3 separate regions of the Homo sapiens genome follow, and all the other regions are reported to be linked to region 1. The links are microRNA targets in miRTarBase. Many come from high-throughput screens and were not tested one by one. Region 1 holds a microRNA gene; each other region holds the end of a gene's coding sequence.

Evidence for each region. Region 1 holds the annotated microRNA hsa-let-7f-5p (UGAGGUAGUAGAUUGUAUAGUU, at 1,823-1,844, opposite strand). A microRNA usually pairs through its seed, bases 2 to 8, with sites in the 3' UTR of a target mRNA and lowers its output. Matches are read on the target gene's strand: a 7mer-m8 pairs with bases 2 to 8, a 7mer-A1 pairs with bases 2 to 7 and ends in A, and an 8mer does both.
Region 2: the mRNA of RAB19 is a reported target of hsa-let-7f-5p. Seed matches in the 3' UTR shown: 7mer-m8 at 935-941.
Region 3: miRTarBase lists PLAGL2 as a target of hsa-let-7f-5p. Seed matches in the 3' UTR shown: 7mer-m8 at 1,166-1,172.

What each region holds. Positions count from the first base shown.
Region 1 is chrX:53,555,424-53,558,423 of GRCh38, forward strand. It overlaps MIRLET7F2 (microRNA let-7f-2), which reads right to left and starts at 1,851; the gene lies at 1,769-1,851. HUWE1 (HECT, UBA and WWE domain containing E3 ubiquitin protein ligase 1) reads right to left here. Exons shown (of 84, transcript NM_031407.7): 60 at 1,959-2,004. MIR98 (microRNA 98) reads right to left here and starts at 918; the gene lies at 800-918.
Region 2 is chr7:140,425,992-140,428,991 of GRCh38, forward strand. It overlaps RAB19 (RAB19, member RAS oncogene family), which reads left to right. Exons shown (of 4, transcript NM_001008749.3): 4 at 1-1,983. The coding sequence ends at 159. Among named protein-coding and RNA genes, the nearest start is that of RAB19, 23 kb to the left of the region's middle.
Region 3 is chr20:32,193,655-32,196,654 of GRCh38, forward strand. PLAGL2 (PLAG1 like zinc finger 2) reads right to left here. Exons shown (of 3, transcript NM_002657.3): 3 at 1-3,000. The coding sequence ends at 2,798. Among named protein-coding and RNA genes, the nearest start is that of PLAGL2, 13 kb to the right of the region's middle. RefSeq lists an enhancer at 2,649-3,000.

The sequences.
Region 1 (3,000 bases):
CAGGTGATCTTCCCACCTCAGCCTCCCAAGTAGCTGAGACTATAGGCATGTGCCACCATACCTGACTAATTTTTTGTATATTTAGTAGAGACAGGGTCTTGCCATGTTGCCCAGGCTGGTCTCAAACTCCTAAGCTCTAGCAATCCACCCACCTCGGCCTCCCAAAGTGCTGGGATTACAGGCGTGAGCCACTGCGTCCAGCCCTTCAAAATCTTTTTTTTTTTTTTTTTTTTCCTGAGACAGAGTCTTGCTCTGTTGCCCAGGCTGGAGTGCAGTGGCGTGTTCTCAGCTCACTGAAGCCTCCACTTCCTGGGTTCAAGCAATTCTCCTGCCTCAGCCTCCTGAGTAGCTGGGACCACAGGCGAGTGTCACCAAGCCTGGCTAATTTTTGTATTTTGAGTAGAGGCGGGGTTTCGCCGTGTTGGCCAGGTTGGTCTCGAACTCCTGACCTCAGGTGATCCACCCGCCTCGGCCTCCCAAAAATGCTGGGATTACAGGCATGAACCACTGCGCCTGGCCCAAAATTCTTAAAGTATGCTTTCCATTCCCTTGCACACATTCCTGTTCTATTACTAATAAAATGCAATCATTACACAGTTGAAGAATAGCAAAATGAGTTCATGCCCAAAGGTAAAATAATTATATGCTCCAATTAATGAAAGACAAGTCACTTTATAATGACATCTGCCTCACCCTAAACACCATCTGTCCCCTTCCATGTCTCTTTTCTTCCAGTCCAAATTATCCAAGGAACATCTACAACTTTGTCTGATGGAGGCAACACTGCTAAGACTAAGTGTGAATATGCCACACACCAGGGAAAGTAGTAAGTTGTATAGTTATCTTCTAATTGGGGCCTAATATCCCTACCCCACAACAATACAACTTACTACCTCACCCTGGCATGAGCAGAATCCTCTAATAAGGGCAGCAGGCAAAAGGCCATTTTACATGGTGACAGACTCTTTTAAAGATCTTTTGCTAGATTAAGGGTACCAAGGCATCTACCCTACTTCACTGCTTTAAAAAATATTGTGCAGGCTTTGGTACAATCATTTTCCAACTCAAGTGCGAAAGGAGACAGGTGTAGGGAGGCAGAAGAATGTTCTGAGGAAATATGGGTGGGGGAGACATATGATATCACATGAACCAACTGATAGAATCACAAAATGGCTACTGACCATTGTTAAGAAGATCAGAGGGAATAGGAAACATACGGCAGTCATACCACTAAGCCCAGAGAGCTACCTTCATGAACAGCACACTATCCAAGACAATGTTCCTAGACTTTTAGATTCCATGGACCAATAAAATTTAATTAAAAAAAGAACAAAAAGTAGAGACTAATGTAGGGGTTGCCAACTTTTAGTTTAGCCATGTAAGAAAAAACATCCAATCAACATCATTTAATAAAAATATTTTGGTACCACAGAATTAGGAATATGATCTCTAAATACAAAAACAGCCTTTTAAATGGAATAAATTCAGCTTTATGAAAAAGGCATTAAAGCTCCTTGATTTTGTTCGTTTCCACAGAGGACTGGCATTTGAGAACCACTGTCATCAGTTATTCTCATGAAGTGCCACACCATGGTGGTCATCAAAGGACCAGCCACTTCAAAGATGTACATGAACATGCTGTTTCAGAGGACAGAGTTGCAGTCAGGAAATGAACAAGACACATGACCTCATTACCCATGCCAGAACAAAGTAGATAATAACCAGAACAAGAACCTGAACAGAGCCAGTCGGAGAAGAAGTGTACCACCGTGGGAAAGACAGTAGACTGTATAGTTATCTCCAAGATGGGGTATGACCCTAAAACTATACAATCTACTACCTCATCCCACAGAGCACCAGTGTCCATCTTCAGCCTATGTGGGCCAGCTACTCGGAACTATCAGGATAAAGAAGCAACCAATTGATTAGTAAGAAGGGAGAAAGGGAAGGAGAGTTACCTGAGAGATTCTGTTCAGTGGAGTCATTTGACTTAGATGCAGTACACTGCAAAAAGAAGGGATAGACCAATGTGGGACTTTGCAAGCACCTAAGATAGAGGTCAACTGTAATAGTCACCATCCTCCACCCAGACCATCTAGGAGTTCAGTGATCTAATGGAGAATGCTTTGGCCATGTGACCAAAGGAAGGTGATCATTTCACTGTGCAAATATATGACCAATTTCTCTATACATACTCAGGTTCAAGAATTGTTTGGGGCTGAGGGGGAAATAAATATGGAAGGAAAGGATAATAAAAACCCCTTAGGGATGGGCACGATCATGATCATTCTAGCAAGAATTTCTTGGTTTCATCTATGTATTTTTTCCCTTCATGGGGCTTATTTTTTATTTTGTCCACTCTAGTCTTTTCAGTCACAGGCTAGGTTCACTTATTTTTCATCCTATATCAAGTTTGAAACAATGTGTGTATTAGGTAAAAAGTTCTATATAAAGATATTTGTTAGATCAACCTTGTTATTTTAACTGAACACTTCACTACCCTTATTTTTAATCTACCTGATTCCTTAACTGCTGAGTAGGGTATACTAAAGTCTTTCACTCTCAAGTCTTATTTCTTTGTATTTCTATCAGTTTTTCCCCCTTTTATATCAAGTGATACACTGTAATGTATAATTCTATCAACATTTACTCAGACATTTAAAAGATCTCTGTCTGAGGTCCCAGAAGTTTCAGAAAAAAGTAGGTAACTTCCTTCTAAACCAAAATTGTATTAGTGATTTTATACATGTGAGCCCTAGAAAAAATGACATGTGGTGATGGGGTTCAGAGTACAAACATTTTCTCTGATCTGACACCTAGGCTGATCTTACTCAAATGACGGAATGGGGTCATCTCGGTAAGATTCCCCACACTGGCAGTTCACCGACAGAAATGGAAGTGGGCGACTAAGAGCATGGACTTAGATAAGGTTTTTCTCCTTGTCTTGATGCTGTCCTTGGCGGTAGAGACTATGCAGTGTGACTGTTGAGTGAGAAGCCA
Region 2 (3,000 bases), not on the chromosome of region 1:
AAGAACATAGAAGAAGTCTTCGTGCTCATGGCCAAGGAGCTGATCGCGCGCAACAGCCTGCACCTATATGGGGAGAGTGCCCTGAACGGCCTCCCCCTGGACTCCAGCCCCGTTCTTATGGCCCAGGGTCCAAGTGAAAAGACCCACTGCACTTGCTAAGATGTTTGCAAAGCCAGTTGCACCCACCAAAGAGGCCGCCTCTGAAACCAAAGGTAGCCAGGATACCGTAGTGTTGCCCCAGTGGCGCTTTAGACCCCAGCGTGGACTTGCCGCTCACCCCTAATCCTCCCAGTCTGGATGGGCCACACTTCTCCCTTGACTCACACCACAGGTCATAGCTGCTGACTCTCAGGAAAACCAGCACCATTGTTTTCACTGACTCTTGACTCCTGGAGAAGGCAGGACTTCAGGCTAGGAGAGGGAGGACGAAGTGTACTCTTCTCCCCTTTCACTTTTCTGTCTCCCTAGAGCTTCTGCTGCTTTCTACTGAATTTTGTTTCTTGCTTGAAGAAGAGGGTAGTGAAGGAAAGGAGGAAGGCAAAACAGCAAGAGAGAGAAGAGGCTGTTTGGAACATTCTGGAACAGTTTGAAACAGCTCAGGCAGGGAGAATGGAACGAAAGCCTGCAATGAGAAACCAGAATGCTGCTATCATTTTGTTCCTGACATTCACACCTCAGGTCTTCACTTTGGGGAGCGAAGCCTTTTAGCAGAAATACCAGAAGTACCATCTTGCCAAATGGTCAGGAACTGTCTGATAGAGATGGAACTGGAATTCACTCTATTCTAGCAGGGCTGACTTGGCCACCCTCTTGGGATAGGGGAAGACACCTGCAATTTTTTTTCTTTCTTTTTTTTTTTTTTTTTTTTGAGACAGGGTCATACTCTGTCACCCAAGCTGGAGTATAGTGGTGGGATCTTGGCTCACTGCAACCTCTACCTCCTGGGTTCAAGAGGTTCTCCCACCTCAGTCTCCCAAGTGGCTGGGACTACAGACACACGCCACCACTCCTGGCTAATTTTTGTATTTTTTGTAGAGACAAGGTTTCACCATGTTGCTCAGGCTGATCTTGAACTCCTGAGCTCAGGTGATCTGCCCACCTTGGCTTCCCAAAGTGCTGGGATTACAGGCATGAGCCACCATGCCTGTTCTTTTTTTTTTTTTTTTTTTTTGAGACTGAGTCTCACTCTGTCACTCAGGCTGGAATGCAGTGGCATGATCTCGGCTCACTGCAACCTCAACCTCCACCTCCTGGGTTCAAGCAATTCTCCTGCCTCAGCCTCCCAAGTAGCTGGGACTACTGGCACTCACTACCACGCCCAGCTCATTTTTTTTGTATATTTAGTAGAGACTGGGTTTCACTACGTTGGTCAGGCTGGTCTTGAACTCCTGACCTCATGATCCACCCGTCTCGGCCTCCTAAAGTGCTGGGATTACAGGCATGAGCCACCATGCCCGGCCCTTTTTTTTTTTTTTTTGAGACAGAGTTTCGCTCTTGTTGCCCAGGCTGGAGTGCAATGGTGTGACCTCGGCTCACTGCAACTTCTGCCTTCCAGATTCAAGTGATTCTCCTGCCTCAACCTCCCTAGTAGCTGGGATTACAGCCTCCCGCCACCACGCCTAGCTAATTTTTGTGTTTTTAGTAGAGGCAGGGTTTCACCACGTTGGCCAGGCTGGTCTCGAACTCCTGACCTCATGATCCACCTGTCTCGTGGCCTCCCAAAGTGCTGGGATTACAGGTGTGAACCACCGCACCTGGCCTTTTTTTATTATTATTATTGTAGAAATGAAGTCTTGCTACGTTGCCCAGGCTGGTCTCCAATTCCTGAGCTCACAGGTTTCTCCCACCTCAGCCTCCCAAAGTGCTGGGATTACAGGCATGAGCCACCATGCCTGGCACAATTTCTTTCTAGAACCCAAATCATCTGCCAGATCAGAAGTCATTTTTAAATTAAAATTAAATTGGTTCATAGATGAATATCAAGCCAGTGTTGTACTGCCCCTTCTGTAAGATATGGCCAGAGAGCAGCTGGTGCCTTCTGGGATGGAGTAACTGCGGCTTTCAGAACTAAACACGTAAGAGGAGGCTGGAAGTCACCAGGCACCCCTCGTTTCCAGGACTGTGTTAGGGGACATCAGGGCAGGCAGCAGGAGCAGGCCACGGAGCCCCTCCAGGGTCCCAGGGAACTGTGGACACTCACCTGGGGCTTCCGGAGGACAAACACCACTTATGATTGCAGCTGACATTTACTGAGCTGCTTCTCATGGCCAGAAGTTGTGTGAGGTCTGGGGAAAGCAAATGGTCCCTTTGGTTTGTGATGCCAGTGGAGGGGAAAAGAGGTACCAGCCGCATTCTGCTGCTCCTCTTTTTTTTTGAGACGGAGTCTCGCTCTGTCACCCAGGCTGGAGTGCAATGGTGTGATCTTGGCTCACTGCAACCTCCACCTCCCAGGTTCAAGTGATTCTCCTGCCTCAGCCTCCCGAGTAGCTGGGATTACGGGGGTATACCACCACACCTGGATAATTTTTGTATTTTTAGTAGAGACAGGGTTTCACCATGTTGGTCAGGCTGGTCTTGAACTCCTGACCTCAGGTGATCCACCTGCCTCAGCCTCCCAAAGTGCTGGAATTACAGGCTTGAGCCACTGCACCTGGCCTGCTGCTCCTCTTAACACCCTTGGACTTCCTGGCATCCTCTCATCCAGCAGTAGCTCTCAGTTCCCCCTTTCCCTGCGCCACATTTTTTTTTTTTTTTTTTGAGGCAGCGTCTCACTCTGTTGCCCAAGTTAGAGTGCAGTGGTGTCATCTCAGCTCACTGCAACCTCCACCTCCCAGGTTCAAGCGATTCTCCTGCCTCAGCCTCCTGAGTAGCTGGGACTACAGGCGCATGCCACCACACCCAGCTAATTTTCTGTATTTTTAATAGAGACGGGGTTTCACCGTGTTAGCCAGGATGGTCTCGATCTCCTGACTTTGTGATCCTCCCCCCTTGGCTTCCCAA
Region 3 (3,000 bases), not on the chromosome of region 1:
TGGGCAGATGCCCCTCAGGTTCTCATGGCCTCAGTAAGCATACTGAAGTGAGTTCGGGTACTGAGTGCAGGATAAAGCTATTCTTATCCTTTGAACAACCAGGCCACTAAGGCTTTTTTTTTCTTTCCCCCCGACCCCCCAGATTTTAGGAAGGGAGGTTTAAGAAATGACTGGCTAGCTATGGTCCAAAAAAAAAAAGGTGAAGGCAGATATTATTCCTCTGTACCAGCAAAGTTCACAGTGATAGGAAAATTCCTTGTGGGTGCTGAGGACACTGAGAGGAGGAAAGGAAAGACAGGATAGATGGGAGGACACAGGAGTGGGGAAGGCAAGGAGAAAAGACAGGAGGTGGGGGCAAGGCCCCGGTTACAAAGGGTTTAAACAGTTGCTTTGCCAGTCCTATGACTTTTCCAGCATCACTTACGGGGAGAGAGAATTCGAGGGAGGGACAGGAAAGGGCAGGCAGAGAGGAAAGGACTCCTCTAACAGCCCGGGACTTTGTATTCTGCAGCCAGAGGCCCAGTGGCCTCTGTAAACTGAGAGTGTAGGGAAGGTGGCAGTTAAGGTGAGAAGGGTTGCTGAGTCTAGTGATGAAAACCAGATACAACAAAGAGGATGGCAACAGCGAGTCCCAACTGGATTCTCACATACCATCACCTATAATACAAGTCCCAATAACATGCACAGCATGCAGGAGGTGGCTGCGTACCAAGGTAGACACTTTTTAAAATAAACCTTAATTAGTCCCTGGGACTCACTGAAACTAATTTTTAGAAGCAAATCATCTAGTCTGATTCTAACCTTGCCAGACATTTTAATATCTGGTGTTTTTAAAAAGGTATCCCAAGCTACCCTGCCTAAATCAAAACACACTTACTCCAAATTGCTTCTAATCAAGAGCTAGGGAGCTAAATTTTAAGGCTTTTACCTCAAACAAGGAGTACTGGCTTAGGCTGAAGCAGAAAGCTGAGTCCTGGACCTGCTCAGTTCCTGATGACAAACCAAGTGAACCTAGACAGAAGGTGGGTGAGGGAGGACTGGTAGGAGGCTGAGGCAATTCCTTGGTAGTTTGTCCTGAAACCCTACTGGAGAAGTCAGCATGAGGCACCTACTGAGAGAAGTGCCCAGAAACTGCTGACTGCATCTGTTAAGAGTTAACAGTAAAGAGGTAGAAGTGTGTTTCTGAATCAGAGTGGAAGCGTCTCAAGGGTCCCACAGTGGAGGTCCCTGAGCTACCTCCCTTCCGTGAGTGGGAAGAGTGAAGCCCATGAAGAACTGAGATGAAGCAAGGATGGGGTTCCTGGGCTCCAGGCAAGGGCTGTGCTCTCTGCAGCAGGGAGCCCCACGAGTCAGAAGAAAAGAACTAATCATTTGTTGCAAGAAACCTTGCCGGATACTAGCGGAAAACTGGAGGCGGGGGTGGGGGCACAGGAAAGTGGAAGTGATTTGATGGAGAGCAGAGAAGCCTATGCACAGTGGCCGAGTCCACTGTAAAGTGGAAGAGACAGAAGGGACATTGTGGATAAGGAAAATTTTGGTTTGGGACACAACAATGTACCCATAGATTAGGACTTAGCTATCTACCCATTCCTAACCTTCTGCAAACTCTTCTTCCAACAATTCCACAACTTCCCGGAAAAGGGACAGGTGGGAGGAAGACCAATGAGGGGCTCAGACTTCCTCCTTTGCTATCCACACCAACCCAGACTCTGCTTCCAAGACTAATAACAACAGCTCATGATGTTCAAGGTGGGGACTAGGGGATGGGGAGGTGACGGACGTGGGCATGCCTTTCATTTCTTCCCCTCTCCAGTTCAAGAGAAGGATGAGGGGGTCATAATGTACTTGGAGAAAAACAGAATTGCAGACCTGTGAGAAAACTGCTCCAATCCTCTTGCCTGTCTTCTGTGGATACCGCCGAGGCAGGCAGGAACAAATGCAGTCATGGAAGATGGCAGAGACTGAAGCAGTCCAAAGTCAGTTTATTTCCCCACGGGGGAAAAATGTGACCTCAAATGAAGAGAAGTCAGCAAGCCCCGACTCCACCTTGTAAACAGGACTCCAGTTAACACCAGGTACCAAATGGTTCAGGCTGGTGCCAACTGGAATGGACTGATGGGAATGGATTCACGGTGTGTAAACAGTGTTCACTGCAATCACTCTAAGGCTAACAGCTTGGCAAGGGAGGTGAAATGGTGTGTCTGAGGTGACTGTGTAAACGGTACCGTTGCTGGACAACACTGACTGAAAACGGAGGTGCTGGTACAGGAGGAATGGGTGGGCGAGAAATAAAGGCCTTCTCTCCTGCCCATTGGTTGGAAGCAGGCAATGGAGCCAAGTGACCTTCTACAGCAGGGCCTGACCAACTGACTGCTGTGGGGTCTGCAGGTTGGGACCAGAAGGTGGGCTTCTTGGGCAATTTCTCTAGAGGTCATCCAAGGTGAAACCCTCTGTGTCTCCAAGAGGCCTCCCCATTCTCCAAAGAGAAGGAGGTTCTGGCGCTTTGGAGAGGAAGAGGGCCAAGTGTGGCTCCCGATTCAGGTCAAAAAAATAAAAGTAAATAATACCTGAAGTCCTACGGTATGAGATCTTTTCACGGGGTTGGGGCTCAAGGCTCCTTCTGGAATCGATCCTAGAGCCTGAACCCCCAAACCAAGTGCTCCTGTATACAGACACTGGAATTTTTTTTTTTGAACCCAGCTCTGAAAGCTCAGCTGCCTTCATGGGGGACACAGACGGGGTGGGTACTAAGGCTCCATAACAGAGCCAAAAACTGAGCTGAGGGCCTCTGTGGGGGCTACTGGAATGCTTGATGGAAACGAGGCAGGGTGGTGCTACTCAGGCCAGACGTGAAGACAGGAGGCAAGGAGTGCAGAGGCCCAAAGTTCAGTGGTCCCCCAGCTCCTGGGGAATCTTGAGGCTGAGCTTGCAAAGTGGTAAGCAGGGGCTGTGCCTCAGCCTGGGAGTAGCCCATGACCAGGCCTCCTGTGGCCCCAGGTG